2 separate regions of the Homo sapiens genome follow, and region 1 is linked to region 2. Evidence: fine-mapped expression QTL. A gene starts in region 2. The other region holds a variant in brackets. All regions are shown on one strand. Distances are between the middles of the regions. Region 1 overlaps MEGF8 (multiple EGF like domains 8). Region 2 holds the start of MEGF8 (multiple EGF like domains 8).

The links. PIP is the estimated chance that this variant, and not a neighbour inherited with it, causes the effect. A credible set is the group of variants that fine-mapping cannot tell apart.
Region 1: its variant is the best candidate, but not a certain one, in a credible set for the expression of MEGF8 in whole blood (TOPMed, PIP 0.58).

What each region holds. Positions count from the first base shown.
Region 1 is chr19:42,338,486-42,353,299 of GRCh38, forward strand. It overlaps MEGF8 (multiple EGF like domains 8), which reads left to right. Exons shown (of 42, transcript NM_001271938.2): 9 at 4,992-5,146; 10 at 5,469-5,588; 11 at 5,956-6,100; 12 at 6,185-6,348; 13 at 9,787-9,987; 14 at 11,014-11,214; 15 at 11,663-11,899; 16 at 12,731-12,849; 17 at 12,944-13,075; 18 at 13,163-13,276; 19 at 13,723-13,971; 20 at 14,443-14,642. MIR8077 (microRNA 8077) reads left to right here and starts at 12,646; the gene lies at 12,646-12,720. RefSeq lists an enhancer at 11,318-11,819. The variant C/A (reference allele first, on the strand shown) is at 8,574.
Region 2 is chr19:42,317,459-42,332,272 of GRCh38, forward strand. It overlaps MEGF8 (multiple EGF like domains 8), which reads left to right and starts at 8,177. Exons shown (of 42, transcript NM_001271938.2): 1 at 8,177-8,972. The coding sequence starts at 8,786. TMEM145 (transmembrane protein 145) reads left to right here. Exons shown (of 15, transcript NM_173633.3): 12 at 251-423; 13 at 2,859-2,979; 14 at 6,125-6,331; 15 at 7,279-7,606. The coding sequence ends at 7,359. RefSeq lists silencers at 8,103-8,292, 8,333-8,472, 8,693-8,762, 8,773-8,842.

The sequences.
Region 1 (14,814 bases), 21 kb after region 2:
CCCACCTCGGCCTCCCAAAGTGCTGCGATTACAGGCGTGAGCCACTGTGCCCAGCCCCAGTAGGTAGTTTTTTGATCCTCTCCCTCCTCCAACCCTCAGGTAGGCCCCTCAAGTGTCTGTTGTTCCCTTCTTTGTGTCCCTGTACACTCGATGTTTTGTTCCCACTTGTGAGAACATGCAGTATTTGGTTTTCTGTTCCTGTATTAGTCTGCTGAGGATAAGGGCCTCTAGCTCCATCCATGCTGATGCAAAGAACATGATCTCATTCTTTTTTATAGCCACATAGTATTCTATGATGTATACGTACCACATTTTCTTTTTTTTTTTTTCTTTCTATGTATTTTTTTTTTTTTTTTTTTTTTTTTTTGAGACGGAGTTTCGCTCTGTCGCCCAGGCTGGAGTGCAGTGGCGGGATCTCGGCTCACTGCAACCTCCACCTCCCAGGTTCAAGCGATTCTCCTGCCTCAGCCTCCCGAGTAGATGGATTACAGGCGCCTACCACCACAGCCGGCTAATTTTTGTATTTTTAGTAGAGACGGGGTTTCACCATGTTGGCTAGGCTGGTCTCAAACTCCTGACCTCAGGTGATCCACCTGCCTCGGCCTCCCAAATTGCTGGGATTACAGGCGTGAGCCAATGCGCCTGGCCTCCATTTTCTTTATCCAGTCTATCATTGATGGGCATTTAGGTTGATTCCATGTCTTTGCTATTGTGAACAGTGCTGCTTTGAACATACACGTTAGAACAATTTATATTCCTTGGGGTATATACCCGATAATGGGATTGCTGGGTCAAATGGTAATTCTGTTTTAAGTTATTTGAGAAATCTTCAAACTGCTTTCCACAATGCCTGAACTAATTTACATTCCCATCTGCAACCTCACTCGCATGTGTTATTTTTTGACTTTTTGATAATAGCCATTCTGACTGGTGTGAGATGGTATCTCATTGTGGTTTTGATTTGCATTTCTCTCATGATTAGTGATATTGAGCATTTTTTCATATGCTTATTGGCCACGTGTATGTCTTCTTTTGAAAAATGTCTGTTCATGTCCTTTGTCTACTTTTTAATGGGGTTGTTTTTTGCTTGTTAGTTTATTTAAGTTCCTTATAGGTTCTGGATGTTAGATCTTTGTTGGATGCATAGTTTGCAAATATTTTCTCACATTCTGTACATTGTTTACTCTGTTGATAGTATCTTTAGCAGTAACTTTTTCAAGATCACAGTAGATAAGTGACAGAGCCAGCATGGCTATCCCCAAACAACAATCTGTATAAAACTATCACTTAAGGCCGGGTGCAGTGGCTCACACCTGTAATCCCAGCACTTTAGGACGCCATGGCGGGCAGATCATGAGGTCAGGGGTTTGAGACCATCCTGGTTAACATGGTAAAACCCCATCTCTACTAAAAATACAAAAAATTAGCTAGTCATGGTGGCATGCGCCTGTAGTCCCAGCTACTCAGGAGACTGAGGCAGGAGAATTGCTTGAACCTGGGAGGCAGAGCTTGCAGTGAGCTGAGTTCGCACCACTGCACTCCCACCTGGGCAACAGAGTGAGATTCCGTCCCCAAAAAAACAAAAACAAAAACTATTACTTAATCTCTGTGCCTCAGTTTGCTCATCTGTGAAATGAAAATTATAACACGTAATGCCATTGGATAGCTGTAAGAGTAAATTGAGATGATCCTTCAAGAATGATGCCCAGTGAAGTGCTCCACACATTTCCTTTCTTTTTTAAAATTTTTATTATTTATTTTTGAGACAGAGTCTTGCTCTGTTGCCCAGACTGAAGTGCAGTGGTGTGATCTTGGCTCACTCCAATCTCTGCCTCCGAGGTTCAAGCAATTCTCATGCTTCAGCCTTCTGAGTAGCTGGGACTAGAAGCGTGTGCCACCACACCCGGCTAATTTTTGTATTTTTAGTAGAGATGGGGTTTGCCATGTTGACCAGGTGGGTCTCGAACTCCTGGCCTCAAGTGATCCATCTGCCTCGGCCTCCCAAAGTGCTGGGATTACAGGCGTGAGCCACCGTGCCTGGCCTAATTTTTGTATTTTTTTAGTAGAGATGGGGTTTCACTGTGTTGACCTTGTGATCTGCCCGCCTGGGCCTCCCAAAGTGCTAGGATTATAAGCATGAGCCACCGTGCCCGGCCAGGCATTATTATTATTGTTGTTACTATTTTGTTTTATTTTACTTGAGATGGAGTCTTGCTCTGTCACCCAGGCTGGAGTGCGGTAGCATAGTCTCCACTCACTGCAACCTCCACCTCCCGTGTTCAAGCTATTCTCCTGCCTCAGCCTCCTGAGTAGCTGGGATTATAGATGTGCACCACCACTCCTGGCTAATTTTTGTATTTTTGGTAGAGTTGAAGTTTTGCCATGTTTGCCAGGCTGGTCTTGAAGTCCTGACCTTAAGTAATCTGCCTGCCTGGGCCTCCCAAAGTTCTGGGATTACAGGCATGAGCCACCACGCCCGGCCTATTGTTACTATTTTAGAGGCAGAGTCTTGTTCTGTTGCCCAACCTGGAGTGCAGTGGTGCAGTCATAGCCCACTGCAGCCTTGACCTCCCGGGCTCAAGCAGTCCTCCCACCTCTGCCTCCCAAGTGGTTGGGACCACAGGCCCATGCTACCCTTCCCAGCTAATTAAAAACAGAATTTTTGGCCAGGCACTGTGGCTCATTCCTGTAATGCCAGCACTTTGGGAGGCCAAGGCGGGAAAATCGTGAGGTCAGGAGTTCGAGACCAGCCTGGTTAATATGGTGAAACCCTGTCTCTACTAAAAATACAAAAATTAGCTGGCGTGGTGGTAGATGCCTGTGGTCACAGCTACTCAGGAGGCTGAGGCAGGAGAATCGCTTGAACCCAGGAGGCGGAGGTTGCAGTGAGCCAAGATCGTGCCACTGCACTCCAGCCTGGGTAACAGAGGGATACTCCATCTCCAAAAAAAAAAAAAAAAAAAAACACACATAAAAACAGATTTTTTAAAATTTTTTGTAGAGATGAGGCCTCCCTATGTTGCCCAGAGTGGTCTTGAGCTCCTAGGCTCAAGTCATCCTTCCATCTCAGCCTCCCAAATAGCTGTGACCATAGGCACACAATACCACGCCTGGCTAATTAAATAAAATATTTTTGTTTTTTAGAGATAGGGTCTTGCTGTGTTGTCCAGGCTAGTGTTGAACTCCTGGCCTCAAGCGAGCCTTGTGAGATCCAGCCTCCCAACGTGCTGTGATTATAGACGTGAACTACCACGCCCAGACATATTGTCTTTCTTATAGCAGTTAGGGTCCTGTCTCAGGGCCAGAGGGGTCACCAGGGAGGAGATATGGAGAAACCTTTCACTCTCATTAAATCAGACACTGCTTTGAAATCGGATGAAAGCCACAGGCCCTCTCTTCAGAAGATGCTTATACCTGCAAGTTGGGCGTATCACTTCGGGGACGTGTGGGCTTCCCAGAGTCGCATCTGTTCACTCCTCCTCCCTGAAAAGGAGAGAGAGGAGAGGACAAGCGTAAGGAAGGAACCTTAGCACTTAAGGGATGGGAAGGAGGAAAGGCCCCAGAGGAACCCTGTGTGACCATCAGGAATAAAGTCCAGGCCTGGTGTCTGAGGCCCTCATTCTAGGTCTCGTCTGCCTATCCCTTGGTCCCCTTCACTGGGCAGGAGTCAGGAGTGTGATGTTTCTGGAGGCCTCTTCCTGCTTCGCAGTTTGTGATTACCTGGGCCAAGTCCCACACGTTTACAGTGCACGCAGGTCAGTAAGAGGGTAGGGAAGTCACCATTCACTGACCACTTACCTGTCAGTCAGGATTCTTGGCTGTAACTGACAGAAACCCAACCCAGCTGGCTTAAGCAAAAAGGAGAATTTCTGGCTGGGCACGGTGGCTCATGCCTGTAATCCCAGCACTTTGGGAGGCCGAGGCGAGTGGATCACGAGGTCAGGAGATCGAGACTGTCCTGGCTAACACAGTAAAACCCCGTTTTTACTAAAACACAAAAAATTAGCCGGGCTTGGTGGCGGGCGCCTGTAGTCTCAGCTACTTGGGAGGCTGAGGCAGGAGAATGGTGTGAACCCGGGAGACAGAGCTTGCAGTGAGCTGAGATCGTGGCACGGCACTGCAGCCTGGGTGACAAAGCGAGACTCTGTCTCAAAAAAAAAAAAAAGGAATTTCCTGGCTCACTTGAGTGAAAACTGTAGGGGCTGTCTTCAGGCTGGGCTGGATCTAGGTGCTCACAAAATGGCATCAGCCATTTCTCACTCAATTTTTCAGCTGGGTTCACTTCAGTCTCTTGCCTTGTGTAGATGGTCACAGGCAGCTCGTGGATTATCTTCTGCCATAAAATGCCCAGAAAGAAGGGAGTGTCTTTGCCCCAAGAATTGAGAATCAGGCCCTGTACCCCTCCCTGAGCCAGTCACTGAGACTGATGGGCCTGGGCTAAGGCCTCACTTCTGCCAGAACCAGGGACAACTCCACCTAAGTCTCACAGATTGGGAAAGGGAAAGGTTGGTTTTCCAGAGGAAAATCAGGCGCTATCACCAGAAGAGAGGCTGGTGCTAGACAGACAAAAATGGGAGACTGAGGCAGCCTACTGGGGGCTCAGCAGATTCTTCAGTCCTCCCAGCTCCCTGAGGACGAGATGATGGTTCTTTTTATAGAGGAGGAAACCAAGACTCAGAGAAGTTCAGTCTCCTGTCCAGGGTCACACAGCTAGTCAGTAGTTGATCCACGATTTGAACCCAAGTAAGTGGTAGATGCAGGATTTGAACCCAAGTCTTTCTGACCCTAAAGATCAGAAAGATGATTTGGGTAGGGGCGAGGGAGCTCAGCTTGTTCAGGGCCAGGTGGGCTGGGAGAGTGTCCTTGGGCAGGTGAGGTTGAAGCAGCCACCGGAATAGAAGGCTGGGCTGTGGCCCAGGAGAATCAGGAGCCATGGAGGTGGTGGAGGGGCTGGGGGTCTAATAATGTCATTGGGGTCTCTATTCCCCTAGGCCGAGCAGCGCCTCCCAGTGGTCGGTACTCACATGTAGCTGCGGTGCTTGGTGGCAGCGTCCTGTTGGTGGCTGGGGGGTACAGCGGCCGGCCCCGTGGGGACTTGATGGCGTACAAGGTGCCCCCCTTTGTGTTCCAGGCACCTGCCCCTGACGTGAGCACTGGGGTGACAGGGAAAGGGTGGCTGGGGGGAGGAGGTAGCAGGGTTTCCACAGGTGAGGGGAAAGGCAGGAGGGGATCCCTGGGAGAAGGAGTGGGGATCCCTAGGACCATGAGAGAAGGGAAGGAGGTCCCTGGGGCAGAGGAAAGAGGAGCTAGAGGTCCCTGGGCCTGGGGGAGGAATGGATGGGCATGCTGAGCACTCAGGGTCCTCTGGGATAGCTAAAGCAAGCGGGGACTTGGGAGGCCGGCCCAGGTCTGAGAGGCCTCCTCCTCCGTCCCCTTGCCTCCCCCTCTGTCCCCTTGCCTCCCTGCAGTACCACTTGGACTACTGCTCCATGTACACAGACCACAGCGTCTGCTCCCGGGACCCGGAATGCAGTTGGTGCCAAGGAGCCTGCCAAGCTGCACCCCCTCCTGGGACCCCCTTGGGGGCTGTGAGTGACAGCCCTAGACCCTCTGTTCCCTAGCATAGAGACCTGCCCTCAGTGTCTCCCTCTGCCTAACCAGATGGACAAGAACTTTCCCTCAACTGGGAGACTTGTTTTCATGCCGGAGATCCTCCTTCCTGATTCCTGACTGCGGAGCCCTGAACCTTTGCCTATCCCACCCAGCCCGACCCTTTTGAGCCCGTGACCCCATCCCCGCATCCCCCGTCCTCTGGATCTCCCACATTCCAAGTCAACTCCCCGTTCTTCAGTTTTTTCGCCCTTTCCATCGCAGGACCCTGTATCCACAGCCCTTCCTTCCCAGATCTCTTGAGCTCCAGTTGACAGTGAGCCCTTTCCCCTCTCCTCCTCGCAGTGTCCAGCCGCCAGCTGCCTGGGCCTGGGCCGCCTCCTGGGTGACTGCCAGGCCTGCCTGGCCTTCAGCAGCCCCACAGCCCCTCCACGGGGACCTGGCACCCTGGGCTGGTGCGTGCACAATGAGAGCTGCCTCCCTAGGCCTGGTGAGTGTCCGCAGCAGTGGGCCGGCAGGAGGGGGCCAGAGCACTCCACACTGACCCACCGGCCCCCACCCCCTGTCTTCTCAGAGCAGGCCCGCTGCCGAGGGGAGCAGATCTCAGGCACTGTGGGCTGGTGGGGGCCTGCGCCTGTCTTCGTCACGTCCCTGGAGGCCTGCGTCACCCAGAGCTTCCTGCCTGGCCTGCACTTGCTCACCTTTCAGCAGCCGCCCAATACCTCCCAGCCTGACAAGGTGGGTAGGAGGCGTGGCCCTGGGTGGGGTGTTGATGATCCTGATCCTAGGGTTTGTTTTTTCTCAAATGCATCTTTATCACTCTTATGTTTACTCCAAAACTCTTTACATTCAAGGGTCTTATTTTCCTTATGGACTTTATTTTTTATTTTTTTTGAGAGGGAGTCTTGCTCTGTCACCCAGGCTGAAGTGCAGTGGCGCAGTCTCAGCTCACTGCAACCTCTGCCTCCTGGGTTCAAGTGATTCTCCTGCCTCAGCCTCCTGAGTAGCCGAGATTACAGATGCCCGCCACTGCGCCCAGCTAATTTTTGTATTTTAGTAGAAGACGAAGTTTCACCATGTTGGTCAGGCTGGTCTTGAGCTCTTGACTTTAAATGATCCGCCTGCCTTGGCCTCCCAAAACTCTGGGATTACAGGCATGAGCCGCTGTGCCTGGCCTCCTTATAGATTTTAAAAAGAATTTTTACATTGTGGTAAAATACACATAAAATTTTTCATCAGTGACATTTAGCACATTTACAATATTGTGCAATCATCACCACTATCTTGTTACAGAACATTTTCATCACCCCAGAGGACAACCCTGGACTCACTAAGTAGTCACTCTCTATTCCACTCTTCCCCCCGGTCCCTGGCAGCTACTAATCTGTTTTCCATCTCTGGATTTGCCAGTTCTGGACATTTCATGTACATGGAGGCCTGTACTATGTGGCCTTTTGTGTCTGGCTTCTTTCACTCAGCGTAATGTTTTCAAGGCTCATTCATTTTATAACTTCATTTGGAAAGGAACTCTATTCCTTTTTATGGTTGAGTAATATTCCATTGTATAGATGGACCACATTTTGTTTATCCATTCATCAGCTGATGGACGTTTGGGCTGTTTCCATCTTTTGACTATTGTGAATAATGCTGGTATGAGCACTTGTGTACACGTTTTTGTTTGAACATCTGTTTTCAATTCTTGTGGCTGTATACCTAGGAGCAGAATTGCTGGGTTATATGTTAATTCCATATTCATCTTATTGAGGAATGTCCAAACTGTTTTCCACAGTACCTCTTTATTGATTTTTTGTTGTTGTTGTTGAGACAGAGTCTCTCTCTCTGTCGCCCAGGCTGGAGTGCAGTGGCACGATCTTGGCTCACTGCAACCTGCAGCTCCCGGGTTCAAGTGATTCTCCTGCCTCAGCCTGCTGAGTAGCTGGAACTACAGGCACTTGCCACCACACTCGGCTAATTTTTTGTATTTTTAGTAGAGATGGGGTTTCACTGTGTTAGCCAGCATGGTCTCGATCTCCTGACCTCATGATCTGCCTGCCTCAGCCTCCCAAAGTGCTGGGATTACAGGCATGAGCCACCATGCCCGGCCTCTTTATTGATTTTAAAAATAGCTCATATATTCACATGGTTCAAAAATCACAGTGACATCAAAAGTCATTGGGGCTGGGCACGGTGGCTCACGCCTGTAATTCCGGCCGAGGTGGGCGGATCTCTTGAGGTCAGGAGTTTGAGACCAGCCTGGCCAACATGGTGAAACCCTGTCTCTACTAAAACTACAAAAATTAGCCGGGCGTGATGTCGGGTGCCTGTAATCCCAGCACTTTGGGAGGCTAAGGTGGGAGGATCACTTGAGGTCAGGAGTTTGAGATCAGCCTGGCCAACATTACGAAATCCCATCTCTACTAAAAATACAAAAATTAGCTGCTCATGGTGATGCGTGCCTGTAGTCCCAGCTACCTGGGAGGCTGAGGGAGGAGTATCTCTTGAGCCTGGGAGGCAGAGGTTACAGTGACCCAAGATCACGCCACTGCATTGCAGCCTGGGCAACAGAGTGAGACTCCATTTTAATTAAAAATAAATAAATAAATAAAAGGCTGGGCACGGTGGCTCACGCCGGTAATCCCAGCACTTTGTGAGGCCAAGGCAGGCGGATTACAAGGTCAGGAGAGCGAGACCGTCCTGGCTAACACAGTGAAGCCCTGTCTCTAATAAAAATACAAAAAAATTAGCTGGGTGTGGTGGTGAGCACCTGTAGTCCCAGCTACTCAGGAGTCTGAAGCAGGAGAATGGCGTGAACCCGAGAGGTGGAGCTTGCAGTCAGCTGAGATCATGTCACTGCACTCCAGCCTGGGTGACAGAGAGAGACTCTGTCTCAAAAAAAAAAAAAAAAAAAAAGAAAAAGAAAAAGAAAAAAAAGTCACTAAATGGACAGTCTCTCTCATTTACCC[C/A]ACTCCCTACCCCTTAAGTGGTCCAAAATTATCTAGCTCCAGCATGGCTGCAACTTAAGGCCACCATACCTCCCTGGAAGATCCATTTGGGTTTCTTTGATCTTATTCCAGAATTTACCTATTCAGATGCAAGTAAGCATGACATCATATCATTTTTCTTTCTCACTAAACTAATATACTATGAACATTATACGACTGCTTCCTTTTTTTCTTCCTGGCAAGCTTCCCATAACAGAACTTAAGAAACACTCTCATTCTTTTTTTTTTTTTTTTTTTGAGATGGAGTCTCTCTCTATCGCCCAGGCTGGAGTGCAGTGGCAAGCGATTTCAGCTCACTGCAACCCTGCCTCCCGGGCTTAAGTGATCTTCCCACCTTAGCCTCCCAAGTAGCTGGGATTACAAACATGCACCACCATGCCTGGCTGTTTTTTGTATTTTTTTTGTTTGTTTTGAGACGGAGTTTTGCTCTTGTTGCACAGGCTGGAGTGCAATGGCGCAATCTCGGCTCAGTGCAACCTCTGCCTCCCGGGTTTGAACGATTCTCCTGCCTCAGGCTCCCAAGTAGCTGGGATTACAAGTGCACGCTACCACTCCCGGCTAATTTTTTGTATTTAGTAGAGATGGGGTTTCACCATGTTGGTCAGGCTGGTCTTGAACTCCTGACCTCAAGTGATCTGCCCACCTCGGCCTCCCAAAGTGCCCGCCGTGCCCAGCCTTCATTCTTCTTTTTTTTTTTAAGTTGTATAATATTCCATTTACATTTGTAGTTTATTTAAATAGCCTCCCACTGGTGAACACTTGGACTGTTCCACTCTTCTGCTATTACAAAATCACACACCAGGAAAATAAATCTTGCACTTTGTCTGCCACTTTGAATATTAGATCTGGGCTTTGAAGTGCTTAGCTGGAAAGGTGAGGAGTTGGATAAGAAGACACTGAAGTGTCCAGTCCTGGAGTTTTAATGTGAGATGGAAATGGCTAGAGGCCAGGGGTAAAGGTGGGCTCTGGGACCCTGTCGTCTATTGTCTGAATTTAGGTCTTGCCTCTTTTCCCAGAGTGACCTTTGACAAGCCACCTAACCCCTGTCCCTCTGCCTCAGTCTCTCATTTGGTAAAATGGGGAAGAAGGTTGGGTTGACCAGTCTTTTCTGGCTCTGATGTGGCCTGTGAGTCCAGAAAGGGACTCACACATACACCCATCCCTGGTGGCACAGGTCTCAATTGTCCGCAGCACGACCATCACCCTAACACCCAGCGCAGAGACAGATGTGTCCCTGGTCTACCGTGGCTTCATCTACCCAATGCTGCCTGGAGGGCCAGGTGGACCAGGGGCTGAGGACGTGGCCGTGTGGACGCGGGCCCAGCGCCTACACGTCCTGGCCCGGATGGCCCGTGGCCCTGACACGGAGAACATGGTGAGGCCGCCTGGGACATTCAGGGGGTTGTTTATGGTAAATAGGGAGTTAGGGGTGTGGTATAGAGCATCTGTGGTGATTTGAAGGTTCTGGGGAAGGGCTGGGGAGAAATTAGAGGCAGGAGATGGATTTTTTGTGTGTGTGTAAGACAGAGTCTCACTCTGTTGTCCAGGCTGGAGTGCAGTGGCGCGATCTCGGCTCACTGCTACCTTCACCTCCCAGGTTCAAGCAATTCTTCTGCCTCAGCCTCCCACGTAGCTGGGATTACAGATGTGCATCAGCACTCCTGGCTAATTTTTTTGCATTTTAAGTAAAGATGGGTTTTCACCATGTTGGCCAGGCTGGTTTGGAACTCCTGACCTCAGATGATCCGCCACCTTGGCCTCCCAAAGTGCTGGGATTACAGGCGTAAGCCACTGCGCCTGGCTGGGAATGGATCTTTCGTAGAGGAGGGAGGGTGCTGAGGTTTTCAATTGTGAGCAGAATTTGAGGGAAACTTTGAAGCAGGTGAGGAAGGTCTGAGTCAGACTTGAAAGGCCCCTGAAGGCTGGGCATGGAGGTGTACACCTGTAATCCCAGCCCTTTGGGAGGTAGGGGCAGGTGGATTGCCTGAACCCAGAAGTTTGGGACTAGCCTGGGAAACATGGCGAGACATCATCTCTCCAAAAAATACAAAAATTAGCTGGCCATGGTAGCATGCACCTGTAGTCCCAGCTATTTGGGAGGCTGAGGTGGGAGGATCACTTGAACCTGGGAAGTTGAGGCTGCAGTGAGCCATGATCGCATCACTGCACTTCAGCCTGAGTGATGGAATGAGACCCTGTCTCAAGAAAAAAAAAAAAAAAAAAGCCCCTGAGGAGGAGGGTCCCTGGGGGTCTCACCTCTGAGGTTCTCAGGATCTAAGGAGCTCTGAGGCCCTCTTCTTAGGAGGGGGTGGGGTACAGGGTGGGTTTGGAGGTATCAGGGGTCTGAGGAAGGAATGGGAAGGGTTCTGAGGCCCCTGCCTATCACTCACACCTACCCCAGGAGGAGGTGGGGCGCTGGGTGGCTCATCAGGAGAAGGAGACGCGGCGGCTGCAGCGCCCTGGGTCTGCTCGCCTCTTCCCTCTGCCTGGGCGGGACCACAAGTATGCAGTAGAGATCCAGGGCCAGCTCAATGGCTCGGCAGGCCCTGGGCACAGCGAGCTAACTCTGCTGTGGGATCGGACTGGTGTGCCAGGAGGCAGCGTGAGTACCCAGGACCTACCTCCAACCCTAGCCGCAGGCCCCAGCCTCAGATCACCTGGGCTTTCTGAACCCCAGGCCACAAACTCTGAAATCCCTAGATTCTGGCCTCGGACTCCTTAACTCTTGGCCTCTGAACTCTGGACCTCCTCTTGAACCCTGTGGCCCCTGACCTCTGCCTATAGACCCTAACCTGATCCCATATTTTGACCCCCATCTTCTGACTCCTCACCCTTGACCCTGCTGACCCTGACCTCTGCCCTCCATACTTTGACCTATAATAATCTCCAGATTCCTCCAGACCTTGGACCTCTTTACTGATTTCCTAAATCCTGACTTCCTATGTGCCTGAGTTCTCAACCTGGGCTCCAAACCCTTACTTTCAGTTAGCGCCAGACTCTGACCCCTGCCCCAGACCTTGACTGCTGCCTTCCTGTGACCCCTTCCCCAGGAGATCTCCTTCTTCTTCCTGGAGCCCTACCGCTCGTCGTCCTGCACCTCCTATTCTTCCTGCCTGGGCTGCTTGGCAGACCAGGGCTGTGGCTGGTGCCTGACCAGTGCCACCTGCCACCTGCGCCAGGGCGGAGCCCATTGCGGGGATGACGGGGCTGGTGGGTCCCTGCTGGTGCTGGTGCCTACCCTCTGCCCACTCTGCGAGGAGCATCGGGACTGCCACGCCTGCACCCAGGTGCCTGTGGGGCCACCAGGGGAGGTCACAAGGTGGAGGGAGCCACAGCAGGCAATGGGCAGTCAAGGGAACCCCTGGTGGGGGGTGTGGGGGAAACAGCAAGGGCTTTTGGCCTTGATCTGCAGAGCCTGGTGGGGAGGGTGAGATGGAGCTGTAGAGAGAGGCACCTGGGGAGTCAGGACTCTCCCTGTTGTAGGGGCCAGAGAATGCAACTCCATCCTTTTCCACTAGCGGGGAGTTTCTCAGCATAGGCACTGGAGCCCAGGAGTAGGCCTTCAGGCCTGCCACCTCCAAGTGATGTCAGGCAGCCCTCGACACCCTGCTTCCTCTTGTTCCCTGGGAGGGTTTGTTTCCTTGTGAGTGGCAAGGGAGCCGTTAAGGGTCCAGGCTCTAAGTCCCTGCTCTGTCTCAAACAGAGTGAGGCTTCCTATTTCTCTCCCCCCACCCCACCACCATCCAGGAGCTCAACAGAAGTCCCAGAATTGCACTTCTGTGGCTCTGGTTGGGCCTTGTACAGGCTCCTGGGCCAATGACTGGAGTTGTGGGGAGGGAATGTGGCCCCTTGCCCACCTCTGGATCCTGAGGATTGAATAAGCCCCACCCGGACCACACAGAAGGGGTGCTATTGCCTAAAGGAGACAGTGGGTGCTGGGCGGGCCGACCCATGGGTGTCTGTGGTCGAAGGGAGGGGTCCAGAGACGCAGGCAGCTGGGGAGGGAGATGGCCTTACAGGGACAGTCTGCAGGGTGGGGCAGGGGGTGGGATGGGCACTGGGAGTCCAAAGGAAAGGGCTGAGTGGGGTTCTGACTCCTCTGCCCAACTGACCCCCAGGACCCCTTCTGTGAGTGGCATCAGAGCACCAGCCGCAAAGGGGACGCGGCATGCAGCCGGCGGGGCCGGGGTCGGGGTGCCCTGAAGAGTCCAGAGGAGTGTCCCCCGCTCTGCAGCCAGTGAGTCAGGCTGGGTGCAGGGAGTGGGTGGGTGGATGTGCCTGGGGATGTGTGCTGGCTGTGGAGTGACCTGGCCCCCTGCTCCCCACCCCAGGCGACTGACCTGTGAGGACTGCCTGGCCAACTCTAGCCAGTGCGCCTGGTGCCAGTCCACCCACACCTGCTTCCTGTTTGCTGCCTACTTGGCCCGGTACCCACACGGGGGCTGTCGAGGCTGGGACGACAGGTATGGTCCCTGGGGCAGGGCTAACAGAGGAAGATTCCCCACCGGCAAGGGGCTGGGGCTCTGACCCCCACCCCTGCCATCCTGCAGTGTACACTCGGAGCCACGGTGCCGGAGCTGCGATGGCTTCCTGACCTGCCATGAGTGTCTGCAGAGCCACGAGTGTGGCTGGTGTGGCAATGAGGACAACCCCACACTGGGACGGTGAGCCCGGGCAGGTGGGTGGGCAGGGTGCCCGGCTGTGTCCTTCCTCCATGACCGGTCATTCTAATGGCCTCTTTGCTTCTCTGCCCTCTTGCCCATCCCATGGCCACCTTCCCTTTTCCGTACTGTTTTTCTGTTGTTTATTTTACCCTCCCGCTCTTTTTTCTCCATTTTTCCTCCTTTTCCGGCTCTCTGCGATTCGTTTTCTTTCTCCTTGTCTGTTTCTGTCTCTCCGCTCTCCCTTTCACTGCATCTCTGTCTATGTCTCTCTTCTGTCTTCCAAAATTGTTTTTGTCTGCGACTTCTCCTGGTTTCTCTGTCTCTCTTTCCAAATTTGTATTTGCATCCCTCTCCTTCCAATTGGCCTCCTCTCTCCCTGTCATTGTTTCTATGTATGGCTCCTGTTTCTATGTTGTCCCCCGCTTCTTCACTCTCCCACCCTGCAGGTGCCTACAGGGGGACTTCTCAGGGCCCCTCGGTGGGGGTAACTGCTCCCTGTGGGTGGGGGAGGGCCTGGGGCTTCCCGTGGCCCTCCCTGCCCGCTGGGCATACGCCCGCTGTCCTGACGTGGATGAGTGTCGCCTGGGCCTGGCCCGGTGCCACCCGCGGGCGACCTGCCTGAACACGCCCCTCAGCTACGAGTGTCACTGCCAGCGGGGCTACCAGGGTGATGGCATCTCACACTGCAACCGCACGTGAGTGAGGCGGGGGTTGCTATGGAGATGTTGCCCCAGGCTGGGGCACATGGAGGTGGAGGGAGGAAGCCATCATGGCGCTGGGTCCCCTCCTGTGGAACCAGCATCCCCAGTTAGCCAGGGGTTTTTACCTTGCACACTAGGTCCTTATTAGAGTGACAGGGTCCCCAGTGTAACCCTGGTTACCATGGAAATGGGGCACCCATAGGCTGTGGGCCATAGTCTTCAGCGTTGCCATGGAGGCGGAGGAGGACCTAGTTGAAAGAGGTTTTCACAGTGGTGCTATGTGGTTGCTATAGAGACAGGCTTGGTGATGCATGGAGTTACCTTGGAGACAGGGTCACCCACATAGCCCAAAACCATGGAAACAGCCAGTGGCTTTGATGGTGTCATGGTGGGTGGAGATGATGGGGTGCTTTAGGGGCTCTGGGCCTGCCTGGCGCTTTCCCCACCCCCAACACGGCCCCTCAGGTGCTTGGAGGACTGTGGCCATGGTGTGTGCAGTGGCCCCCCGGACTTTACCTGCGTGTGTGACCTAGGCTGGACATCAGACCTGCCCCCTCCCACACCCGCCCCGGGTCCGCCAGCCCCCCGCTGCTCCCGGGACTGTGGCTGCAGCTTCCACAGCCACTGCCGCAAGCGGGGCCCTGGCTTCTGCGACGAGTGCCAGGGTAAGCAGCCCTTGTCCTGGGCCCAGCCTGGACCCAGGGAGCCTCCTCCCTTCTTGGGGCTCCAGTTTGCTCTTCTTGGAGGGGGCCTCAGTGTCCTCTCATGCAGCTCTAGGTCCCCTGCCCCATTCCTGTTCCTGACTCAAACAGGTTTCAGTGCCACCCGTCACTCTGG
Region 2 (14,814 bases):
ATGCTGATGGAAAAACTCACACATGAGAGGGGTTTAGCCCTGTGTTGAGCAAACAGTAACTGATTTATTCTCTTCCTGTCTTTTTCACCCTCTCTCTCTACCTCAATATGCTTCTGTCTCCGTGCCTGGCTCTCCTGTTGCTTGTGTTCTGACCGAGTACCTCTGTTCCCAAGTGCCCAGGGGTGGGGTCCGGGGACCCTAATAGAGGGGAGGAGGCCAGGCTGTGATGGACCCTCTCCTGCGGGTCTAGTTCTTTGACCCAGGCCAGGTACTGTACACGTATGAGTCGCCGGCCGGCTACGGGCTCATTGGACTGCAGGTGGCGGCCTACGTGTGGTTCTGCTATGCTGTGCTTGTCTCACTGCGACACTTTCCTGAGAAGCAGCCTTTTTATGTGCCCTTCTTTGCTGCCTATACCCTCTGGTGAGAATTGGTGGGCCCCAGCCTGTCCCTGCCTCCCTCTCGGGGCTCCCCAGAAGTGGTTGCCCCCCATCTCAGACCCTCCATAGTGAGGGAGATGGACTTTTCACTCAGGCAGCTGTTGCCCAGAATCTGCCACTTACTCACTTTGTGAAAAATTACTTTCACAAGAAGTGCATCAGGTTTACCCATAAAACAACAGGATCTCGCCAGGCGTGGTGGCTCACGCCTGTAATCCCAGCCCTTTGGGAGGCCGAGGTGGGCGTATCACAAGGTCAGGAGATTGAGACCATCCTGGCTAACATGGTGAAACCCCGTCTCTACTAAAAATACAAAAAAATTAGCCAGCCATGGCAGCATGCACCTGTAGTCCCAGCTGCTGGGGAGGCTGAGGCAGGAAAATGGCGTGAACCCAGGAGGCGGAGCTTGCAGTGAACCAAGATCGCACCACTGCACTCCAGCCTGGGCCACAGAGCAAGACTCCATCTCAAAAAAAAAAAAAAAAAACCAAACAGGATCTCCTCAGGCCGGGCGTGGTGGCTCACACCTGTAATCCCATCACTTTGGGAGGCCAAGGCGGGTGGATCACCTGAGGTCAGGAGTTCGAGACCAGCCTGATCAACATGGTGAAACCCCATCTCTACCAAAAAATAAAAAAATTAGCCGGGCATGCTGGTGGGCACCTGTAATCCCAGCTACTCAGGAGGCTGAGGCAGGAGAATTGCTTGAACCCGGGAGGCAGAGGTTGCAGTGAGCCGAGATCACATCATTGCATTCCAACCTGGGCAACAGAGCAAGACTTCATCTTCAAAAAAAAAAAAAAACAGGATCTCCTCAAAGGGATATCTTGAGCAAGCATAGGCCACTATATGAGGGCCGAGTGTCTGGCACATAGTAAATGTTCAGTAAAAAACTATTGTAGACTGGGTGCGCTGGCTCATGCCTGTACCCCCAGCACTTTGGGAGGCCAAGGTGGGTGGATCATTTGAGATCAGGAGTTCAAGACCAGCCTGGCCAACATGGTAAAACCCCGTCTTTACTAAAAATACAAAAAAATTAGCCAGGCATGGTGGTGCACGCCTGTACTGCCAGTTACTCGGGAAGCTGAAGCAGGAGAATAGCTTGAACCTGGGAGACTGAGGTTGCAGTGAGTTGAGATCGTGCCCCTGTACTCTAGCCTGGGCAACAGAGTGAGACTCCATCTCAAAAACAAACAAAAAACAACAACAACAAACAAAACAAAAAAACACCCAAAACTATTGTAATTATTATCGTTCACCATAACATAGCAATAAGGTTGGCAGATTCTGAGCCAGACTGTCCGGGTTCAGATCTCAGCTCTAAAGCTTATAGATGATGTGACCTCAGACGAGCCCATTAACTTCTCTCTGCCTCAGTTTCCTCACCTTTTAATGGGGATGGAAATTTTATCTGCTTCATAGAGTCACTGTGAGAGTTAAATGAGTTTATATACATCAAATGCTTAGAAACAGGCCTGGCATGCAATAAGTCCTTACTTCTTATTATCATTTGTTCATTCATTCGTCAAATATCTATTTTTTTTTGTTTGTTTGTTTTTTGTTTTTGAGACGGAGTCTTGCTCTGTCGCCCAGGCTGGAGTGCAGTGGCACGATCTCAGCTCACTGCAACCTCCGCCTCCTAAATTCAAGTGATTCTTCTGCCTCAGCCTCCCGAGTAGCTGGGACTACAGGCGCATGCCACCACACCCTGCTAATTTATGTATTTTTAGTAGAGATGTGGTTTCCACCATATTGGCCAGGCTGGTCTGGAACTCCTGACCTCAGGTGATCCACCTGCCTTGGCCTCCCAAAGTACTGGGATTACAGGCATAAGCCACTGTGCCCGGCCTGATTTCTTCTTTTTTTTTTTTTTTTTTTGAGATGGAGTTTCGCTCTTGTTGCCCAGGCTGGAGTGCAGTGGTACAATCTCCGCTCACTGCAGCCTCCGCCTCCCAGGTTCACGTGATTCCCCTGCTTCAGCCTTCCAAATAGCTGGGATTACAGGTGCATGCCACCACACCCAGCTAATTTTGTATTTTTAATAGAGACGGGGTGTCACCATGTTGGTCAGGCTGGTCTCGAACTCCCAACCTCAGGTGATCTGCCTGCCTTGGCCTCCCAAAGTGCTGGGATTATAGGCGTGAGCCACCGTGCCCGGGCTGTCTATTGATTTCTTATCAGATGCCAGGATTTGGGGTGGTGTGGAACTGAGTTAAATTGAACCTCCTTCTTGCCCCTCAGAATTTCCCAGTCCAGTCCTGCCCCATTTCAGTCTCTGGCTTCTGAAGGTCACACTGGCTTCCCTCCAGTTTGGGACCTGCCTGGGGTCTGCGTGTGTACATGGCAGGCGAGGTGGGGCTATAGGGTGGGGTGGAGGACAGGAGCAGTGTCTCTACTGACCCAATACTTCCCCTTCAGGTTCTTTGCGGTTCCTGTCATGGCCCTGATTGCCAATTTCGGCATCCCCAAGTGGGCCCGGGAGAAGATTGTCAATGGCATCCAGCTGGGGATCCACTTGTACGCCCATGGCGTGTTTCTGGTGAGGATGGGCATCTGTGGGGGGTGGAGGGGAGGACCCGAGGGCAGAAGATGTGTGAGGCTCCTACACCTGATCTGCTGGACCTCCTGTTCTGAGGTCTTGATCCATTTTCCTTTTAGTCATTCTCCCTTTATTGAGAGCCTGCTTGGTTCCTGCAGTCTCCTCTATTGTGCTCCTCAGAGTCCATTTTCTTCTCTTTTTTTTTTTCGAGACAGAGTCTCACTCTGTCTCCCAGGCTGGAGTGCAATGGCTTGATCTCGGCTCCCTGCAAACTCCGCCTCCCGGGTTCAAGTGATTCTTCTGCCTCAGCCTCCCGAGTAGCTGGGATTACAGGTGCCCACCACCACATGCAGCTAATTTTTTGTATTTTTAGTAAAGGCAGGGTTTCACCATGTTGGTCAGGCTAGTCTCAAACTCCTGACCTCAGGTGATCCACCCGTCTCAGCCTCCCAAAGTGCTGGGATTACAGGCATGGGCCACCTCGCCGGGCCCATGCCCATTTTCTTCTGTTCCCCTCTCCAACTTTGTGTCCTGGCTTCTTTCCTCAACCCCCATCCTCTCTCTTTGCCCTCCCTTCCCATTTCCATTCCTGACCCTGTGTCCCCAGATTCTTCCATTTCTCTTTTGTATCCCCACTGCCTTCCCCACCCTCCTTGATCTCTCCACTCTCCCCCTGCCCCTGCCCAAATTCTGCCATCACAGGCCACTGTTCAGGAAGAAGCATCTGGGGTGGCACAGGGTGAAGCTTTTGGGCTCCTGGGTCGGCAACAGGAGGGTACAGCACCACATCTTTTTTTTTTTTTTTTGAGACGGAGTCTCACTCTGTCACTAGGCTGGAGTGCAGTGGCGCGATCTTGGCTCACTGCAACCTCCACCTCCCAGGTTCTCCTGCCTCAGCCTCCGGAGTAGCTGGGACTACAGGAGCACGCCACCATGCCCGGTTAAGTGGTTTTTTTTTTTTTTTTTTTTTGAGACGGAGTCTTGCTCTGTTGCCCAGGCTGGAGTGCAGAGGTGCGATCTCGGCTCACTGCAACTTCTGCCTCCCAAGTTCATGCCATTCCCCTGCCTCAGCCTCCCTAGTAGCTGGGACTACAGGCGCCCACCACCACGCCTAGCAAATTTTTTTTGTATTTTTAGTAGAGACGGGGTTTCACTATGTTGGCCAGGATGGTCTCGATCTCCTGACCTCATGATCCGCCCGCCTCGGCCTCCCAAAGTGCTGGGATTACAGGAGTGAGCCACTGCGCCTGGCCCCCACCACGTCTATTCTTTGCCCTGGTTCACATCCTATCTGACATTCTTGGTGACAGTTCTAATATTCATTAATTTATTCATCAATTGTTCACTGGGCACCTGTCTTGAACCAGTCTGTTTCATTCTAGGAACATCCATATGCATTTACTCCTGCCCTCTTGTTTAATTGTCAGAGCAGCTCCAGGAGAGGGTGGATAATTGACATTGTTCCCACTACACAGAGCGGGGAAGCTAAGGCCCAGAGAGGAGAAGTGACGTGCCAGGGCTCCGTGGCCTTTGGCGGCAGGCAAATACTTTGAACCCTATCCTTCTCCAGCAGACCACAAGGTCTGAAATGAAGGGGAACCAGAAAGGGCAACAGGCATGACCCAGTGTCCCAGCTTCTGACTCCAGGGATCTACAACGTACCCCGTGTAGGGAGTGGGCCCAGCCACCGAGGGAGGGGACAGGTCCCCATCCTTTGCCTCAGAGGCTGACATAGGTACAGACTCGCTCACCTTCCCAGGCTGGTCTATCCTGAAGCTCTGCAGGAAGTCAGAAAGGGACAGAAAGAGGAGAAATGCTGAGAACCCATCATGTGCTGGGCTCTGCACCAGTGGTTTTCATTTCCACCCTCTCATCTTTCCAAGTAGGCGCTACAGTCCCTTTTCCCCACAGCGAGGCTCAGGGAGTTTAATCAACATGCCCCAGATCCCATACTCAGTGAGCTACAGATCCCAGAGGCGGGATGCAGGCTCAGAACGGCAAGCACAGCGCCCTTCCTGCTGTATCTCAGCCAGCTTCCTTCCTAAGGATGCTCACGTTAGCTCAGCACAGCTCCACCTGGGTATCTCAACGCTCATTGCTTTCAGCTCCTTGTTCATTTTTTTCAGCACAACCTTAGAAGAGCTGTGTTAGGTTTCCGGGATATGGCGGTGGAGTCACACCCAGTCCCTGCCTTCACAGCCTATCAGACTAACTGGTACCAGACATCCCTACATTCCACCAATATTTATTTATTTATTTATTTATTTTAAATTTTTTTTTTTTGAGATGGAATCTTCCTCTGTCGTCCAGGTTGGAGTGCAGTGGCATGATCTCGGCTCACTGCAACCTCTGCCTCCTGGGTTCAAGCAATTCTCCTGCCTTAGCCTCCCAAGTAGCTGGGATTACAGGCGCACCACCACACCTGGCTAATTTTTGTATTTTTAGTAGAGATGGAGTTTCACCATGTTGGCCATGCTGGTCTCAAACTCCTGACCTCAGGTGATCCGCCCGCCTCGGCCTCCCCAAGTGCTGGGATTACAGGCGTGAGCCATGGCGCCTTGCCCACCAATATTTACTGAAGGCTTATATGCGCCAGGCATGGTTCTAGAAGGTACTAGGGACTCAGTAGGGAACAGAAGAGTCTGGTTCCTGCCTCATCGAGACATTTTAGAGTCTATTAGTTGCTGTCCAATTGAACTTTCTGTATTTATGAAAATATCCTATTACCTGCACTTTCCAATATGGGAGCTACTAACCACATGTGGCTGTTGAGCACTTGAATGTGGGTAGTGCATAGTGAGTGTGTAGTGAGGAGTGTGACCAAAATTTAAATTTTATTTTGATTAAATTTAAGCTACATGCAGCCAGTGGCTATCATACAGTGCAGGACGCTGACCCTAAGCAATCAGTGACAGCTCAGTGATCAGGCCTCTGATGGAGGAAGCACAGGCCGAGTTTTGTTGAAGGGAAAAGGTGAGGGTCCAGGGCATTTGGAGAGCCCAGAGGGGACGCCTAATCCAGTGTGAATGGCTTCAGGGAAGTGTGGTGGATGTCAACTGAAAGGGAATCCTTCGGACCCCAAGTTTATGGGGACAGCCTCCGGCCTGACAGTGCCTCTCACACCTGCTCCTGGCCCTGGCCTCAGATCATGACCCGCCCATCAGCGGCCAACAAGAACTTCCCGTACCACGTGCGCACGTCGCAGATCGCTTCAGCCGGAGTCCCTGGACCCGGAGGGAGCCAATCCGCTGACAAGGCCTTCCCGCAGCACGTCTATGGGAACGTGACGTTTATCAGCGACTCGGTGCCCAACTTCACGGAGCTCTTCTCCATCCCCCCGCCCGCCACCTCCGTAAGCCCCGCGGCCCCAGCGCCCGAGGAGCTGCTGGCGCCGCCCCTGGAGTACCTGACCCCGCTCCCGGCCCCGCCGCCGCCCCCAGCGCCCGGACCCCTGAGCCCTCCTCCTGCCTTTCGCACTCCCCGCGCCCCAACACCGCGCCGCGACCGTCCCCTGGCGCCCGCGCCCACCCTGCCTGACTGGGTTCTGGCGCTGTTGCGCACACCCCCGCAGACTCCCTGCGCCGTGCCCCCACCGCCCGCCTTCCGCGGCTCTCCCCCAGCTCCCCGGCCGCCGCCGGAGTTCGCCCCGCGCGCCCCGACGCCGCCCTTTGAGTACCTGGCCCCGCTGCCCAGGCGCCCCGCCACCCAGTCCTTCCCTGACTGACAACGTGCGTCCACACCTGGGGTGGAAGGGTTCTCCGGGGGAGGGGGACGGGCCTTCGGGGCCGCATCTGCCCCCCGAGGGTCCCGGACGGCCTCTGACCCTGACCCCCCTCCCAGGCCGGGAAGCAGGTGGAGGAGACAGCGGTGGCGGCGGCGGTGGCCCCGAGGGGCCGCGTGGTGACCATGGCCGAGCCGGGCGCAGCCTCCCCCCCACTTCCCGCTCGGTTCCCCAAGGCGGCCGACTCGGGCTGGGACGGCCCGACGCCGCCCTACCAGCCGCTCGTGCCCCAGACGGCAGCGCCGCACACCGGCTTCACCGAATACTTCAGCATGCACACGGCCGGGGGCACTGCACCCCCGGTCTGAGCACCCCTGCCCGCCCCTGCCCCATGGGCCATGACCGGGCCCCGGCCGGGCTCCGGACCCCTGCTTTATCCCGGCCCGAGAGCTCGCCCATCCCCGGCCTTCCCGACCCTTCCCACCCCGCGCGCCCAGGTTGGGTACGCTGCGTCCCGCCCCCCTCCCCTCTGTGCCAAACGGTCCCGCGGGAGCCGCTCTCCCCGTCCCCTCCCTCAGCCCCTGCCCCGAGCGGCGCCGGATTCTGGGCTCCCGCTGTTCCGTGACCTCCGGCCCCCTGGCCCCCTTCGAGACCTCTGACCCCGCTGGACTCCGGAACACCCGTGGTGACCGCCGGGACCCTGCCTGTGACTCTCCAGGACTCTGCGACCCCGGGATGGATATTGCGATGCTGGTCTCGACCCTGAAACCCTCCCTCGGATCTGTGACCTCGGACCCGTACTCCATCTGCCGCATCTCCATTCCGGGGGCCTTCCCTCGGGTCCCTGGCAGAAAGACATTTTACCCCTTCTTGCCAAAATAAAAAAGGATTCGTTTTTATCTATAACATGGCTTCTTTTGCATCTTGATGGTGTTCAGCGGCGGGGCTGAGCCAGAACTATGTCAGGCTCGGGACCTCAGTGTGTCCATCTGTGAAATGGGAATTTGGAACCGGAGGCAGGGGCCTGTATAACCTGATCTTTATGTTGCCCCAGAATGTGGGAACATTGAAGATGATCAAACATCTAGCAGGGTCTTGCACCGCTCCTTTATTTTTGCCTTCCTTTCCTCACTCAGAGGTAGAGGCGCCCTCCAGTGGCCCATGCTTTGCTGAACCACAGGCACCCAGAGTTTGGGTTACGATCTTAGCACTGCGCATATGTGTATTTCTCTCCCTCCAGGAGGACGCTGCTGCGCATGCGGTTGGGAACAAATGGGCGGGGATTTCCCCGGAAGTCTCCCTTTATGGAGGGTTGGGGTTGGGCGCTCCGCAGTCCTCCCAGGGCCGCTCTGACCGGCCGCTCTGTAACTTCTCGCCTCCTCTTCGCCGTCCCTCCCACAGCGGCTGCTCGGCTCCCGCCCCCTCGCCCTCCCACAGCGGGTCTTCCCGCGGCCGCTCTGGCCCAAGCGTCCCCTCGTCTCTCTGATCTGGCCCATCCGGCTTCGGAGGGAGGCGAGGGTGGGTGAGCAAAGGGATTGGGTCTGTGGGGTCCAGGCCCGAACCCCTGAAGACGGGCTCCGCCCCCGGCACCCGCTCGCGCCCCGCCCCCGGCTGGAGGAGTCTCTCCTGGACCATCCGAACCTAGCCTGTCCCGGCCCGCAGCCTCTATGGAGGCTCCTGCCGGGCCGTAGAGCCCTTCGCCCCCTGGGGACCCACCCGTCTATAAGGTCCGTTTGGCCTGCAGCAGCCTGAGTCCGTAATGCTGGGCACTGTTCATGGGATCGGCCCCCTATGGAGCCCTGTGTCTATAGGGGACTCCTACGGTCCCTAGGGTTCGGCCCCGTCCATAATGACTCCATATACAGGGCCTTCCATCGCTCTATAGGGCTCAGCCCTCGGCTTCCAGAGCCTGTCAGCAGTGGCCGTACCCTTCGCCGGGACTGCCGGGTCTCCGGGACCTCTTCGATCTACAAGGTCATGTTATGCCTATAGAGGTCGCATTTGCAGGGCCTCACCCCGGGTAGAGGGTCCTCTCCAGGTTTTTACGGCCTGTCCCCGCTCTAAGGGTCAGTGCAGGAGGCGGCGATGGCCCTGGGCAAGGTTCTGGCCATGGCACTGGTTTTGGCCTTGGCCGTGCTGGGGTCGCTGTCCCCTGGGGCCCGGGCGGGGGACTGCAAGGGGCAGCGGCAGGTGCTGCGGGAGGCGCCAGGCTTCGTGACGGATGGTGCGGGCAACTACAGCGTCAATGGCAACTGCGAGTGGCTCATCGAGGGTGAGTGGGGCCGCGTGGGTCACTCACTAATTCGCTGGTAGTTCATTCATGTGTGCATTCATCCACTCACCACATTCCCAGAGCTCGGTTCTGGTCCAGGCCTTTTGCTCTAAAATGCCTGACACCCAGGGTTGCAGCCAACCTGGGCCCTGCCCTGGAAGGCCTCCAAGTCTGGTGGGGGAGATGCACCTACACCCAGATTTACAATTACAAGACAGGAGCATCAGTGCCGGGCCTTCTGAGTAACTGTTAAGAACTCAGGGTCTGGGTCCAATCATTTGGCTTTGAATTTGGTTCTACTACTACTACTTTTTTTTTTTTTTTTTTTTGAGATGGGGGCCTCACTCTGTCACCCAGGCTGGAGTGCAATGGTACCAACACAATTTACTTACTGCAGCCTCGACCTCCTGGGCTCAAGTGATCCTCCCACCTCAGCCTCCCAAGTAACTGAGTGTGTAGAGACAGAGTCTCACCATGTCGCCCAGGCTAGTCCTGAACTCTTGGGCTCAAACGATCCTCGCACCTCAGCCTCCCAAAGTGTTGGGATTGTAGGTGTGAGCCACTGTGCCTGGCTTCTTATTATTAGCTTTGTGACTTTGAGCAGGTGGTTTTCTTTCTCTGAGGTTCTGTTTCCTTCCCCCACAAATGGGATAACAACAGTACTCACCTCATAGAGTTGTTGGAATGAAATGAAAACAGGTATTTAACATGCCTGATGTGTGGCATATAGTAACTGTTCAATAAATGGCATTAGGATTATTGTTGTTGTTATTTGTGAAGTACTTCAATAAAAGCATTTTTCTTCAGTCATTCATGTGCCAGACATTATGTTTCCCATTGGACATAGCCCAGACTGAGACAGCTCCAGCAATCCCTGGTGACTTAGGTCTTGGAGTCTAGTTGGGGAGACAAACACATTAATAGTGAGAGACAAGAGTGGTCTTTGATGGAGGAACCCCAGAGGCCTGGGAGAGCCCAGAGAAAGTGCCTGATCTGGGGCCGGGGAGAACAGAGAGGCTTCCTGGAGGAGGAAATGTCTAAGCTGAGACTTAAAGGACCAATAGGAATCTGTCAGGAGTGGGAGGAAAGGCCCCAGCCCTACCCTTCTGGGCTCCCAGTCAGTGGGAGAGACAAACCCACTCCGAGGCTGTTTGTTTTCCTTTTCCACCCAATAAACTCCTATGCATGCCTCAGAACCCTGCCCCAGTGGCTCTTTCTCTGTGAAGACATGTGGCTTAACCTGGGGTATAGCTGAGATCAGAGGCATCTGTACGAGGGAGCAGAAGGGCATTCCAGGCAAGAATAGCTGTGCAAAGGCGGGGAAGCGGGAGAGTGATGCTTTTGAAGAACTAGAAATCCAGTGTGTTAAAACATAGAATACTGGCAGGGTATGGTGGCTCATGCCTGTAATCCCAGCACTTTGGGAGGCCGAGGCCGGCAGATCGCCTGAAGTCAGGAGTTTGAGACCAGCCTGGGCAGTATGGTGAAACCCCATCTCTACTAAAAATACAAAAATTAGCTGGGTGTGATGGCGCGCGCCTGTAGTCCCAGCTTCTCAGGAGGCTGAGGCACAAGAATCACTTGAACCTGGAGGTTGCAGTGAGCCAATATTGTGCCACTACGCTCCAGTCTGGGCGGCAGAGCGAGACTCCATCTGAAACAAAAACAAAAACATAGAATACAAGACAACGAATGAGCCAGAGGCTGCAGGGTGGGAGGAGCCAGCAGGTGTAGGGCTCTGTGATTTTGAGCTGTATCCTGAGGGCAATACAGGGGTGAAAGAGAAGTTGAAAGGCAGTACCTGCAGAAGCCCAGGAAGGCCTCACAGAGTAGTGGATGTAAAAGCTGGCCTCCAGACAGGGGAGGTCCTGGGCAAAGGCCAGAGGTGTGACAGAGCCTGGATCATGCAGGGCCTCCCTTGGGAGGCTGTGGAGCTTTGTCTTTGTCTGGGGGCTCTGGGGAGCTATGGAAGGGTTTTGAGCAGGGAGAGGACATGATCTGATTTATGTTTTAGAAGATCTCTCTGGCTGCTGTGTGGGGTATGGATGAAGGCCTGTTTCTCAGTGATAGCATGTCTACCTGTTCCCAGCTTGGGGGCCATTCCTGTCAAGCTAGTGGGATGAGAACAGAATAGGAAGTGTGTGTGTGTGTGTGTGTGTGGCGAAGGGGTCTGTGTGCTGGATATAAATCACTCTCTGGCCTTAAAGAGTCCCAGACTGGTTAGGCCAGGTGCGGTGGCTCACGCCTGTAATCCCAGCACTTTGGGAGACCAAGTGGGGCGGATCACCTGACGTCAGGCTTTAGAGACCAGCCTGGCCGACATGAAGAAACCCCCTCTCTACTAAAACTACAAAAATTAGCCCTGCGTGGTGGCGCACATCTGTGGTTCCAGCCTGGGTGACAGAGCGAGACTCTACCTCAAAAAAAAAGAAAAAACGTCTCAGACTGGTTGGGAATGGTGGGGCTGGACACAGATATTCAGCCCCCAGTGTGTTCACTGAGACAGTGCTCAGGGCTAAGAAGGAAAGTGGAGGGGTGGGGTGGATGTACCTAGGGAGGAAAGAGGACTGTGCTGCAGATAACAGAGCAGGAGCCACTAAAATAGGGTTCTGAAGCATGCATAGGAGTTTATTGAGTGGGAAAAGGGAGCAAACAGCCTCTATGAAGACGTGAGGGTGGCTGGAGTGTCTCAGGATCCCCATCTAGGTTTGCCTGGTCTTATGGCACTTTTGACTGGGAGGTAATGAGAGCCAGAAGCAGGGGAAGAGGGGCCTTGAATGTCACACTGAGCAGCCTGGCCTTCCCCTTGGGGTTGATGGGCAGCCACAGGAGGTTTTGAGCAGGAGTAGGGCATTGCCCTCAGGTTGGGTGTGGGGCAGACTGGAGACTTGATGAGCTGATCTGGCAAGAGAGGATGAGTTCCTAACTAGGGCAGGGGCTTAGAGGGGTGGAGAGGTGTAGACAGTGCAATCGATGTTTGTGGAGTTTCACCTATAAGACTTGGGGACCAACTGGGTAGATGTTGGGGTGAGGGAGGAGGCTGGGAGACCTCCAGATCCCCCTTGATGATCTTCTGTTCTTACCAATGCCTGTCACTTCTTACCTATAAGAACCAACATCTTCCTCTATCTATTATAAAATAAACAACCAGCCAGGGGCAGTGGCACATGCCTGTAATCCCAGCACTTTGGGAATCTGAGATGCAAGGATTACTCGAGCCCAGGAGTTAGAGACTAGCCTGAACAACATGGTAAGACACTGTCTCTACAAAAAAATTACAAAAGATTAGCTGGGCTTGGTGGGTGGTGGCATGTGCCTATAGCTCCAGCTACCGGCGAGGCTGAGGTGGGCAGATCCCTTGAGCCTAGGAGGCTGAGGTCTCAGTGAGCCGAGATTGCGCTGCTATACTCCAGCCTGGGCAGCAGAGCGAGACCCTGTCTCAGGGAAAAAAAAAAAAAAAAGATAAACAACCAACCTACTAACTTTTGTATTATGTTCATACTTTATCTAGTCCTAGACTTTTTTTTTCCGAGAGAGAATCTTGCTCTGTTGCCCAGGCTGGAGTGCAGTGGCTTGATCTCGGCTCACTGCAGCTTCTGCTTCCCAGGTTCAAGTGATTCTTGTTCCTTGGTTTCCTGAGTAGCTGGGATTACAGGCATGTGCCACCATGCCGGGCTAATTTTTGTATTTTTAGTAGAGATGGTGTTTCTCTATGTTGGCCAGGCTGGTCTCAAACTCCTGGCCTCAAATGATCTGCCCTGGGATTACAGACGTGAGCCACCACGCCCAGCCCAGTCCTAGTCCTTATAACATCCTCATGGATAAGAGGCATCCTGCTTTTGAGCAGGAGGGAGTTTGGGATCAGATTTCTGTCTGGAGTGGTATGGGGGTTGGGTGGAAACAGAAGACCTTCAACTTAGGGAAGAACTTGGGGAGGCAGATGGTGAGCTGGCCTCCAGCAGGCACTTAACAAAGATGTACTTGTGATTCCAGAAACAGAGCTTTATAGTTTGGTTGAGGCTGGTAAGATTCTGGGAGGTCTGGTTGTGTGGCCGTGCTGAATGGTTCTTCTGCATTCCCCAAAGCATGGGTGGGGTCTGTGTCTGATGTCTTGGGGGCTCTGGTTAGAGCCTGAGGGAGAGCTTCCAGCTTTAGTATTCTGTCTTTTATGTATTTCTTCATTTCATCATCCAGCATTTCCTGAGCCTTTGCCAAGCCCGGGTCTGGGCAATGCTGCAGAGGGAATTAGGTCCACATCCAGGCCCTGCTCTATGGGCCTTGTAGGCTGCAGGGAGACAGACCTGGACATAGATGTTCCTGGCCCAGAGGAATGAAGGTTATAATGGGATGTGAGAACCCTGGAGAGGGGGCATCTAACCCAGCTAGGGGGCATCAGGAAGAGGCCTGGTGGTGGGAAGGGATAATATGTTGCAGACAGAGGGAGAAGCTTGTACAAAGGCCCAGCTCCCATTAGAGCTGTAAGCAGTGGGGTGATTTGAGACAAAGCGAGGGTCTGAACAGCAGGTTAGGGACCTGGACTTTCTCCTAGGGTGGTAGGGAGCCATGCAGGGCTTTGGGGCAGGGGAGGGACGGGGCCAGATGTTGAGTTGGGAAGATCAGAGACTCATGTCAGGGGAAGAAGGAGGTTGGATCAGTGGTTCTGGTGAGACAGGATGAGGCCGGGCAGCCAGGGCACACTCTGGCTCTAAGCTGGCAGGCTGGAGTCATCACCTCGTTGAATGTTCACCCCAGCCTTTGTGGGTGGGGGGAATTATCCCCATTTTACAGTCATGGAAACTAAGGCTCAGAGAGCCCATGGAACTGGCCCAGGATCACCCAGCCATTGGCAGTGGTGGCTGAGTGTCTCCAGGATCCAGATAGGCACACTGAGGGTCATGGGGGAAAGGGCTGGCCCAGGGTCCTCCAGCTGGTCATGGGCAGAGCCAGAGCCAGAGCCAGAGCCTAGGCCTCCTAATTTCCCTCACCCAGAGGACTCCCCTGAGCTGCCTGTTCAGAAGGCTTCTCATGTGGGATGTGGAATGAGAGAGGCTACCTGAACTAGGACTGGCAGAGAATAAGACAGTGACAGTGTTAGGGGTAGTGGCACTCTCCACGATATGTGGGCCCCATTGTCAACATTTCTTTTTTTTTTTTTTGAAACAGAGTTTCACTCTTGTCGCCCAGGCTGGAGTGCAATGGCATGATCTCAGCTCACTGTAACCTCTGCCTCCCGGGTTCAAGAATTCTCCTGCCTCAGCCTCCCAAATAGCTGGGATTACAAGCATGTGCCACCATATCCAGCTAATTTTTTGTATTTTTAGTAGAGACGGGGTTTCACCATGTTGGCCAGGCTGGTCTCGAACTCTTGACCTCAAGCGATCCACCCACCTTGGCCTCCCAAAGTGCTGGGATTATAGGCGTGACCCACGGCACCCAGCCTCTTTTTTTTTTTTGAGTCCCCTCTGTCGCCCAGGCTGGAGTGCAGTGGTGCAATCTTGGCTCACTGCAACCTCTGCCTCCCGGGTTCAAGCAATTCTCCTGCCTCAGCCTCCTGAGTAGCTGGGACTTGCACCACCATGCCTGGCTAATTTTTGTATTTTTTTTTAGTAAGAGACAGGGTTTCACCATGTTGGCCAGGCTGTTCTGGAACTCCTGACCTCAGGTGATCCACCTGCCCTGGCCTCTCAAAAGTGCTGGGATTACAGGCGTGAGCCACCCACCCCACTCTGTTGTCACCATTTCGTGTGCATTATTGCTCCTCATGAGGTTGCAGTCAGATGTCAGCTGGGGCTGCAGTCAGCTGAATGTTCACCTTGGCTGGACATCCAGGAAGGTCCCTCCC